Linked DNA regions of Homo sapiens. The protein of the gene in region 2 purifies or fractionates together with the protein of the main gene of each other region. This does not show direct contact. Each region holds a gene or a part of one and is shown on either strand. Other genes may lie near its edges.

Evidence for each region.
Region 1: the proteins of THRA (region 2) and IPO7 purify together in Homo sapiens (affinity purification with western blotting, with the first as the bait; one study listed by BioGRID). This does not show direct contact.
Region 3: the proteins of THRA (region 2) and CDK8 purify together in Homo sapiens (affinity purification with western blotting, with the first as the bait; one study listed by BioGRID). This does not show direct contact.

The regions. Positions count from the first base shown.
Region 1 is NC_000011.10:9,440,000-9,443,651, reverse strand, and holds part of IPO7 (importin-7), read right to left. Parts: intron 3,198-3,652; coding exon 2,991-3,197; intron 1,572-2,990; coding exon 1,455-1,571; intron 1-1,454. UniProt on the Homo sapiens protein: Functions in nuclear protein import, either by acting as autonomous nuclear transport receptor or as an adapter-like protein in association with the importin-beta subunit KPNB1.
Region 2 is NC_000017.11:40,061,701-40,065,892, reverse strand, and holds the start of THRA (thyroid hormone receptor alpha), read right to left. Parts: upstream 2,929-4,192; 5' UTR 2,801-2,928; intron 1-2,800.
Region 3 is NC_000013.11:26,348,070-26,351,721, reverse strand, and holds part of CDK8 (cyclin-dependent kinase 8), read right to left. Parts: intron 2,651-3,652; coding exon 2,540-2,650; intron 1-2,539.

The DNA.
Region 1 (3,652 bases), on a different chromosome or scaffold from region 2:
GGATTACAGGCATGAGCCACCACGCCTGGCCAAGTGTTTAAATTTTTTTTTTTTTTTTTTGAGACGGAGTTTCGCTCTTGTTGCCCAGGCTGGAGTGCAATGGCGCGACCTCGGCTCACCGCAACCTCCACCTCCCGGGTTCAAGCAATTCTCCTGCCTCAGCCTCCCGAGTAGCTGGGATTACAGGCATGCCTACCACGCCTGGCTAATTTTGTATTTGCAGTAGAGATGGGGTTTCTCCACGTTGGTCAGGCTGGTCTCGAACTCTAAACCTCAGGTGATCCACCCGCCTCAGCCTCCCAAAGTGCTGGGATTACAGGTGTGAGCCACTGCGCCCGGCTTAGGTGTTTACATTTTTAACAGAACTTTCTACTATCTAACCATCACCATGAGCTAAAGTTATTGCAAACTGAAAGTAGTCTTCAACTGTACTTTTTTTTGTTTTTTTGAGACAGACTTTTGCTCTTGTCACCCAGGCTGCAGTGCAATGGCGTGATGTCGGCTCACTGCAACCTCTGCCTCCTGGGTTCAAGGACTTGCCTGCCCCAGCCTCCCAAGTAGCTGGGATTACAAGCATGCGCCACCATGTCTGGCTGTGTTCTCTAGTTTTTTTTGTTTCTGTTTTTTTGGAGATGGAGTCTCGTTCTGTTGCCCAGGATGGAGAACAGTAGTGCAATCTCAACTCACTGCAACCTCCGCCTCCTAGGTTCAAGCAATTTTCCTGCCTCAGCCTCCTGAGTAGCTGGGAATATAGGCATGTGCCACCATGCCTGGCTAGTTTTTTGTATTTTAGTAGAGACAGAGTTTGGTCATGTTGCCCAGGCTGGTCTCAAACTCCCGAGCTCAGGCAATCCACCCACCGTGGCCTCCCAAAGTGCTGGAATTACAGGCATGAGCCACCACACCTGGCCCAATTATACTTAAAAATAAACAAACTGGGGCTGGGTGTGGTGGCTCACGCCTGTAATCTCAGCAGTTTGGGAGGCCGAGGCGGGCGGGTCATGAGGTCAGGAGATTGATACCATCCTGGCTAACACAGTGAAACCCTGTCTCTACTAAAAATACAAAAAATTAGCCAGGTGTAGTGGCAGGTGCCTGTAGTCCCAGCTACTTGGGAGGCTGAGGCAGGAGAATGGCATGAACCCGGGAGGTAGAGCTTGCAGTGAGCTGACATCGCATCACTGCACTACAGCCTGGGCGACAGAGCAAGACGCCATCTCAAACAAACAAACAAACAAACAAAAAAAAACGAAAAAAGCCAACTGTAGCCAAAGCCAAAATTAAGTTATCTTGAATTAAATCCCTCAGATTAGAGTTAATTCCTATCACCTGCAACAACTATACCTTTTATATCATCTTAAATGATAAAATTTAATGATATAAAATTAAACGATATAAAATTTTAAACCTATAAAAGTCACTAATTAAAGAGGAGTTACAGTTAATTAACATACCATGGGCTGCTCTTCTTTGATCAGCCAGAGTTGCTATGTCCTGTAACTGTTTTCTTTGTTCTTCATTAAGACCGTGAGTCAGTGCCTGATACCACACAGGATTACGATTTTGAATAGCTATCAAAAAATAAAAACAAGGGAAAAACAACATGAATAAGAGAGGCTTGGTAGCTCCGTTCTACACTATTCCTCCTACTCCATCCCGAGGCAATACTGAAATTCTGATCTATTTTATATTCTCCCAATAATTTTTAAAATTACCATATTTGTGAAACAACAGATATAGGAATAAAAATTAACTACAGCTTATCTTTATGGCTCCAAAAACTCTAATCATTCTTACGATCCATCTCTCCAGCAAATAAGGACTCAGCCTAACTAGTTCTTATATAGTAAGTAACAAACCAGGGAGACTTCAGGAATAAAGCTAACCCAACCATCTTAAAAGATTCAGAGCTAAAGCAACTTGAAAATCATCAAGGCTACTGTGGTACATGGGCCCCGTGTTAGGAACCATTCTTTAGGGACTGACATGTGGTGTCTGTCTACAAAGTACAAGGCACAGAAACAACAAGTTTGGCACCTCAATCAGTTCTTGCTGCCATGTAGCTCAGAAACCAGCACTTTGTGCTTCTGTAACCTTGCATCAAAACTGCCTTGTCATGGGCTTAGAAGACTCAAATCCTTGGTTATCAGATAATGTATTCTATCAAAAAATATATTCATCAGTTCCCAGTGCATAGGAAATGATATATAACAGCAATTAACTCTGAGAGGAAAAGATGTTTCAAATACAGGGGAAATTTAATTTCTTAACGTGGATGGTAAAACACAAATGCTATACCTTGTTGAAATCCAAGTAAATGATGGTAAAAACCAACCAGAACCTAGTATTCTGGAGCCACATACAATGACACATTATAGGAACAGTGGACTTTTCTTGGAATATTTAACAGTGTACGTGGCTCCAGAATCCTAGGCATATATAATTCAAAAATCTCAAGGTTAAATTAGTTGTTTAAAGCTAAAAATTTGATTATGCCGAAAGTGCTAATTTAGTAATAATAGATTAAATTAGTTAACACATCACAGAATATAGGAAAAAAAGAATTATAAGATCATATGCCATAAATGCTAATATACTCTTAACACGTTAAGTATAGGTTTGGGCAGGAAAAAAGGATACACACAAATAATAACATACAACAAACAGGTATACACGTAAGAGTGGTTACTTCTGAGGAAAGCTGGGAGATTGGGAATCAGAAGTAGCAAAGAGGCACTGTCACTGTATACTTTTTTGAACTACATTATTTTCCTATAATCTTCCAAAATTACAATCTAAATGTAAAATAACAGGATGAATAAAGAATACTCAGAAACTATGGCAACCTTAGAAATAATTTTGGTTACTTTGCCTAACCAGCCTTTTCTAGTCTGGGTTTGATATCCTCCAAACTCTTCCTTTAAAGGGCAGGCAGAAACTACAACAGATTTGTTCAATGAAATGGATCCACATGTAACAAGTTGACTTACTTTGAAAGATAGCTTTAAATATCTGATACTCATCAACAGGGTTATCTTCATCATCAATGATTGTGGAATAGCCTTCCAGAGCAGTCTCTTCAGCATCATCTTCTTCCCAATCTTCATCATCTCCATCTTCACCAGCCTGCTTAGCCAGAATCTCCAAATATTCTTGCCCATCTTCATCAATATCATCTTCATCACTCCCCAGTTCCTCTGCCAAGTCATAATATAAGTACTTTTATAACAATGACATATTTTGTTACTCAACAAATTGACAATCATCTCAATCACTGTCAGTAAATTACAAGTCACAAGTGACAAGAGAGAGCTCCAGGAATTGGTGTTTAAATACATGTTCAATAATGAATAGAAATGAAAATTTCCATAGGAGTCCAAGAAAACCAACCTTGATTTAATGTGTTCTTAATACTAGACATCTGAAAAAGAACTGCGCAGTATGAACACACTACCGTTACACCCACCAAACCTTTTGTAAGATTTTTTTTAAAAGGCTGGCTAAGTTAGTAAATGATAAAAGACAAAAATAGCAATAGCTATCTTATGTTGAAACCCTTATAATAATTTCTCTTAATATTTTATCAATTTATACACTGATAGTGTACAGTCTTATAGATAAAATGTATTTATCAACATTTAATTAACATAAT
Region 2 (4,192 bases):
TGGCTTGTTTAAGAGCTGCTAGCTGGCTGCAGCCTGCACCCTGAGGGTGCCCACAGAACTGGTGTCTCCAGACATGCAGGCCCGAGGGGTCAGCATGGGCAGTGGCTGACCCCCCCCCCCTTCCCCCATTCCCAGCCCCTAAAACTTGCTGGCCACAGCTGCGGCACTAAGGAAGTGCAGGAAGTCCTGAGCAGCCAGCTGAGCCCCCCGCCCCCCACCCCAACCTCAAGCTGACCCCAGAGGCTGCGCAGGGGGGGCAGAGGGGCGGAGCTTGGGTATTAACAACTGGAAAAGTATGAAGAACATTGCTGCCAGTCCCCAGCTCTGAGACAAGGACAGGGGTAGATCGGGGGTAGCAACAGGGTGAGAGAGAGTTACAGACTGGCAGAGAAACAAGGAGAGAGAGAGGGAGAATCAGACACTGCAAGACAGAGCAACAGAGAGACAGAGTTAGAGAGAAATTCCAAGTCAAAAGTACATATCACTCACACAGACACTCGCCAGCCGATGGCCTCTTAAGGAAAGCTTCCAAGTTTGGACAGGAGGGTACAGGTGGGAAAAAGGGCCAGACTCAAGGTGGGGCGCAGGAACTCAGCTGGAAGTGACTGACTGTTCCCAGGAAAGACCCAGGCAAATGACTCAGAGCAGGGGCAGTTAGACACCCCTGAGCTTTTAGGGTAGGGAGGAGAGCAGCTCTCCCCTTCCCCAACAGTCAAGAGAATCCTAGCTTCTAGAAGTCACTGGACACTGCTTTGAGCCCATGACTCGGCCCTCTGGAACCCCCCTGAACCCACTGTCTTTGCTCTTGTTTCTCTGTCCCTCTAAAAGAAAGAAAGAAAAAAAAAACAGCCCATTCCCGCACAGTGGCTGAGCCTAGAGGAAAAAGGGGAGGAGGAAGCTGAAGGGGAAAAATTTGTGATTGTGTGCATCTAAGTGTGTGCTCGGCTGCACAGGCTGCAGTTGTGTGTATCTGGGGTTGTGTGGACACGACTGTTGGTGTGGACCTGCAACTGTGGGGACCTGGGCCTTGTGAACTCATTCTGCACCTGAGTTCAGGGGACCATGTGCAAATGAGTGCACCTGTGTCTGCAGGTTCCACAGTCAATCAACTAACAAGTATTTACAGAGCAGCCCTTGTGCTAGGCTCTGCGTGGGATCCAGAGCTCTTTAAGTGATTCTCCCAGGTCTCCAAGAGCTCACTGTCTAGTAGGGTGGTATCTCAAGCGATAGAGACCAAGAACATGTCATTGGGAATGCATGCTTTACACCATTACGCAGGAACACTTTTTCATACAGCCAAATTTAATATTCTTGGGAGCAAGGGTTTTGTTGCCTACAGAACCTCAGAGCTCCACAGTAAAGAGTCCAGGAAAATACTTGTTGCTAAGTTGTGTATACATGTGTTGGTGTGTAACTGTGTTTGCATCTGACTGAGTGACAGCGACTGTCACGGCAAGCAATGATGTCTGTGTGACTGGGCTCATGCGAGCACGTGTGTGCCTGTGAGTGACAGGGTCTTTTGTAATTGTGCTGCTGTGTGCAATTGCTCTGTGTGCATGCATGCATGTGACAGTGACTTTTTATGTGTGGGTGACAGCAACTCCTCCTTGCCCCAGTGTGTGACAGCATCTACGTGTGACCCTGTGCGTGGGTATGTGCATGGATCGGTCCCCATGCTCTTGGTCTCCCATGGGTATATCCCACCCCTCAGAGCTCCACGGTGCAGCAGCAGCCTGTCTCTTCCCTTGTCCCCATGTGGGTGTGTCCAGTAGCTCCTGTCCTTGAGTCTGCCTGGGTGTCCCTGGATGTGCATGTGGCTGTCTGTGTGGACATATCTCTGTGTCTGCGTGTCACTTTTGCTTCCCCCCTCATTTTGGACAACAGCCCCCTTCATCCCCTCCCCCTCCTGGAGCCAAAGCCAGCACTGAGGGGCAGGCTCCCACCTCACTGGCTTTCCTTCTGTGTCCCCCACCCCCACCCCTGGAACGGTGGTTCTTTCAATTGCCCCTGTCATCCCCCCAGGCCTTTCTTTCACGCTGGACAAGGGAGGGCCCCAGATGGAGAAGGGGCACCAGAGACACGTTGCAAGGGGAGGGAAACAAGGTGGGGTACACACACACAGGTCCATTTCTCCCTCTCCTCCCCAGCCAGCAACTCTCCTAATCATCTAGGCACCACCAAGTACACCCCTTCCACACACACATTCCCCCCCAACAACCGCGTTTTTGCAATTAGCAGTGTTGCAACCAGACAGCCATGCTCAACCGGGAGGCGGGTGAGGCGGGGGAACTTCCCTCTCCCCGGACCCGTGCAAGCCCACCCGCGCCACCGCACTCATACTGCCCTCCGCAGCTGGAGGCAGCTTTGCAAAGGCCACTCGGGCCTCAGAGGCTAGGGGTGGGGGCTGGGGGGGCAGGCCTCCGGCGCACCGTAAACAAACCGCGGCGCGGCGGGCGGGGGAGCTCCGGCGGCCGGCAACGGGGCCCGGCCCGGGAATGCGCAGCAGACTGGCCGGACAGAGGCCGGGCGGGCCCTCCAGGGGGAGGCTCGGACGCCATCTCCGCCTGCGAACCCCGGGGCCCAGCGACCTCCTAGCAACACCTCCCTTCCCCAGGGCGTCAGTTGCAAGCTCCCGGGCTCGTGACAGGGTCACTGGGGCGCCAGGAAAGGCTGAGGCTGGCAGCAGGCACCCCCTGGGCGCCCCTAGCCCGCCTGGGAGCTGGCCACGGAGCCCCGCGGCTTTGCATAATCAATCGCAAGGCATTTGCATATTAATGCCCCCTCGCTCCCTCCTCCTTACCTCGGCGTGGCGCGCCGGACCGGGCTGGGCAGCGACGCGGGGGTCTCAGCGCCCCGTGCTGGGGGCGTCCATGGGGGGCCGGTGGGGCCCGGGCCGCCCGCCTCCTGCGCCCGGGTGTGAGTGCGAGTGAGCGCGGGGGGGGCGGGGGGCGAGTGTGGCGGCCCCGCGGCTCCTCCGGCAGAGGCGGCGGCCGCTCTGGCTCCTCCCTCCCCCGCCCCGCTCCGGCTGGGGCTCGGGCTCGGCGCGCCCGGCCGGCTCGCGGCTGCTCCCTGCAGGCCGCCTCGCCGCCGCCCGCCCCCGCCCCCCGCCCCCTGCCGCGCCCCGGGACCCCCGCCAGAGGTCCGGCCGCCCCTCGGCCGCCTCTGCCCCGCCCCGCTCGGACTCGCCCTCCCCAGCCCGGGCGGCTCCCGCAGGAGTGGGTACTTGGTGACATATTTTGGAAAAGATGTCATTAAAAAATAGCCTTTGCTTGCCGGGAGAATTGGGGGGTTTTCGGGTGTGCACCGTGAGGGTGGAGGAGGAAGTATCGACGAGCAGCCTGCACCTTATACATCGGGGAGAAAGTCTAAACACCAAACGCTTGCAGGTGTAGTTTGTTTGGGAGTTCGGGTCCCTTCTCCGCCGGTAACTCACTGTGTGACCTTGACAAATCGCCACTGCTGTCGGGGGCAGAGCTTCCTCAAGCTTCAGCTGCGAGGGCTGGGCAGGTGACCCCTGATGTCCTTTTAACTTCAATCATCTTACGTTTTTCATCCTTGTGGGGGTTCATTCCCTGTTACCTCCCTCCCCTCTCATTTCTAACATCAATACCGATCCACTGCCTCCCTTTTCCAACGTCACCCTTCTCCATATAGGCTCTTTCTATTCTCTGTCACCAGCCATTTCCCCCAACAATCTGCTCCCTCTCCTGAGCTCGGGGAGGGGACAAGATCTGCCATACCCCCTCAATTCCTAGCTCCCGGGTGGTGGTATTTCCCCCCATGTTTGCTCCCACAAAAATCCAAATGGTACCAGAGTCAATCTAAGGAAGACGGTGGGCTGCATACAAATGGACCCCCTAACCCAACCCAAAGGAGAGGTCTCCACCATGCCAGCCCCACCCCCAGCACACACATACACACACCACACACCTGCATTCATGGACATAAAACCAACCCAGTGACGCCAGAGCACCTTTCATCTCAGGATCTCCTAGCGCCAGGCCGAGCCCTAATTACCCCAGCACCCCCCTGGCCCCGCCGGTTCCCCTGCTGTCATTAGCCCAGTTTTACCAGCGGGGGCCACAGCCTTCCCACGGCTCTCAGGGTGGGGCCCTGGCTACATAGTCTGCTCTTGGGGAGGGGTGTGTGTGTGAGTGTGTGTGTGTGTAAGTGTGTGTGTGTTAGGGGGAGC
Region 3 (3,652 bases), on a different chromosome or scaffold from region 2:
TGGCTTAAATATTATTAAGATGATGATAAAGCTAATGAACTAGTTATATGCACTGTACAATATTACCCACAATAAAATTTGCTGAAGTATAATCATTGTACCTACATGTAAAATTAAATATTACAAACTAGCAGCTAGAAATCACATTGAGTGAAATATTATACTATCTTCTATGCTCTACTGTGGTTTATCACAAATCTTGTTTATAAACCAGCCTGGAAAATGCCTTAAGTTTAAATTATATGACTTTATTTCTTATGAGGCTCAGCATAGTGAGTGTTCAATTTAATACTGGCCACGCTGATTTAACAGGGTTGATCTGATTAGATTTCTTTTAAAATAGAAGAACAGAAGAACCAAAGATTTAAAAAAAAAGAAGAAATTAATAACCAGCATGAACTTTGGAAAGAGTTTCATAAAAGAGAGAAAATTTCATGTATACATAATAAAAAGCATAGCCATGCTAATTTAGTAAATATAGATTAGTATGCAAATCAATACAATGTTTAAAGACATTATTAAATATCATTTAAAAAGCAGTTCACAGGAGTATAGTAATTCTTAATGAATTAACACAAGGTAATGTTAGATGTTTAGTTTACTTGTTTCTTAAACTATAATCTGTATTAACAGATGTTCTCTATACAGATTGATAAGAATGTCAATTTTGTTACTATGTTTCAAAATTACTTTGGCTATCCTATTATAGATTTTCTATATATATATCTCAAAGTTTTATCTGCAAGGTAACGTTTCAGATTTTTAAAAAATATATAAATGTTATATTTAATAAAAGAGCAAATTTTATAGTTACCTTAGAGTTCCTCAAATACCAATTTAAAAAATAATCTGCTTAGTAAACTGCAAAATACTGAGGCTGGTGTTTGTATTTCAGCTACTCAGACAAGATAAAATTAAGTTCTTATTTTACAGTAATTTTTTTCAATATAGCATCATTTTCTGCAATGCATTAGATAAACTAATAAACTGGCTGGGCTCAGTGGCTCAGGCCTGTAATCTCAGCACTTTGGGAGGCCGAGGTGGGCAGATCACCTGACATCAGGAGTTAAGAGACCAGCCTGGCCAACATGGTGAAACCCTGTCTCTACTAAAAATACAAAAATTAGCCGGGCTGGAGTGCAACAGTGCAAACAGGACCCACTGCAGCCTCGACTTCCTGAGCTTCAGCCCCATGAACAGCTGGGACCACAGCATGTGCCACTGAGCCCAGCTAATTTTTTTTATTTTTTGCAGAGACAGGGTCTTGCCATGTGACCCAGGCTTGTCTCAAACACTTTGGCTCAAGTGATCTTCCTGTCTTGGCCTCCCAAAGTGTTGGGACTACAGGTGTGACCCACTACACTTGGCCTAAAACTATTCTTATCATAGGTCAGAAAACAAAGAACTAAAAGTCCCAAGAGATATTAAAATTTATTTTCACACGAATCTTATTTTGTAATAGAGCTCTCATCCACAAAAAATTCCTCCAATGCAAGATTATGCCCAATTCAAGTAAGTACAATACAGTCATGCATCACTTAATGAAGGGATACATTCTGAAAAATGTGTCGTTAGGCAATTTTGCAGTTGTGTAAACATCACAGACTGTACTTACACAAACCTAGATGATAGACTCTACTACAAACCTAGGCTATATGTTATAGCCTCCTGCTCCTAGGCTACAAACCTGTACATGTTACTGTACTGAATAAGGAAGGCAATTGTGACACAATAGTAAATAAGTGTGTTATCTAAACATATGTAAACATAGAAAAGGTACAGTAACAATATGGTACTATAATCTTAGGAGACCACTATCATATATGCAGTCCCTAGTTGACAATAACATTATATGGCGCATGACTATACTGTATTGAACTACTGCCACTGAAAATAAGAATTAGGATATTAAATTCAATTGTGAATAGTTAATAATTAATAACAGTTTCCTACATTTGTATATTTATAAAACTTTTCAAATACAAGATTGTTCCTCAGAAAAACGTTGTTAAAAAAGGCAAGAAAGTATTACATTTTACAGATGGGGTAAACTACAGCTTCAAAGCCATTAAAAGACTTGCTTAATGCTATACGACAAATAATGGTAGAACTATTAGATCTCTCCAAAGATAGCATATTCGTCCTCCTACATGAGGATACCACCTTCTCATTTTATGTTCCCTTTATACAACGAAATAAAAGGAAATATGCTACTTTTCTATTTTAGAGCAAAATTTTATATATATTAGTTACTTTTTATTTTATCAAAAAACTATATGAAGCAATATTGAATAGTTGTTGAACACTCTTTAGATTCTATTGTTTTCTTTAGTATCTGTTAAAAGATCAAAGTGACAATATTGAAAAGTAATAATACAAAGTCAAATACTCTAGCCTTCGTCATGCCACCAACCACACTCTATGAGGTTACTTTTATTTTAAAAACATAAGTCTCATAATAAGCAGAACACCTAACTGTTTTTAGTTACTCTTAACAATCCCTGACTGTTTGCTCATGTCTGCCAGCAATTCACCTTACCCAGAGGTCATGTTCAGCATAGTCAAACAGAAGCCACACCTTCCTATCAGCATGAGACAGAAACACCTTTTGAAGAGAAATGACGTTTGGATGCTTAAGCTCTCGAAGTAACTGCAAAACAAAGGAGATGCATTAACTATTTCTGTCACAAAAATAATGTAAAAAACCCCACACCATTTGTAATTCAAAGGCAATACAAACCCACAGGTAAACAATCTTAAACATCTAATAAGCACCCACACAATTCTGAGACGGATACTTCAGTAACAAATGAGAAGATATCTGTGAGGAAAAGACACTGAACAGGTATTATCTGAGTAAATCTATTTTGTTGTTGTTTGGTTGGTTATTTTAATTTTTTGATTGTGGTAAAATATATCTAACATAAAAAGACCATTTTAATCATTTTTAAGTGTACAATTCAGTGGCATCCTATAAGTATATTCACAATGTTCTGCGATCACCACCACTATCCATTTTAGAATTTTTTTTGTCATCCCAAACAGAAACTCTGAATCCATTAAACCAGCGGTTCCCAACCTTTTTGGCATCAGAAACCATTTTTGAGGAAGACAAATTTTCCACGGATAATGGGGTGGAGGTGCAGGGCGGGGGCTGGGGGAAGGGGCAGATGGTGGATGGTTTCAAGATGAAACCGTTTCACCTCAGATCATTCATTAGGCATTAGATTCTCATAAGGAGCATGCAACCTAGATCCTTCACATGCGCAGTTCACAATAGTGTTCAAGCTCCTATGAGAATCTAATGCCACTGCTAATCTGACAGGAGGCAGAGCTCAGGTGGTAATGCTCGCTTGCCTGTGGCTCACCTCCTGCTGTACGGCCCAATTCCTAACGTACCGGTGCTGACGCAGGGACCCCTGCGTTACACAATAATCCCACCGCCTTTTTCCCCAAGGCTCTGGTAACCTCTACTCTACTATCTGTCCCTAAGAATCTTCCTAATCTAGATATTTCATGTAAGTGGAACCATACAATATGTATCCTTTCATGCCAGGCTTATTTCACTTAGCCTATTTCATTCTTTATGGATAAATATACTCCACTCTATGCATATCTATATATATATCTATATAGATATATATATAGATAT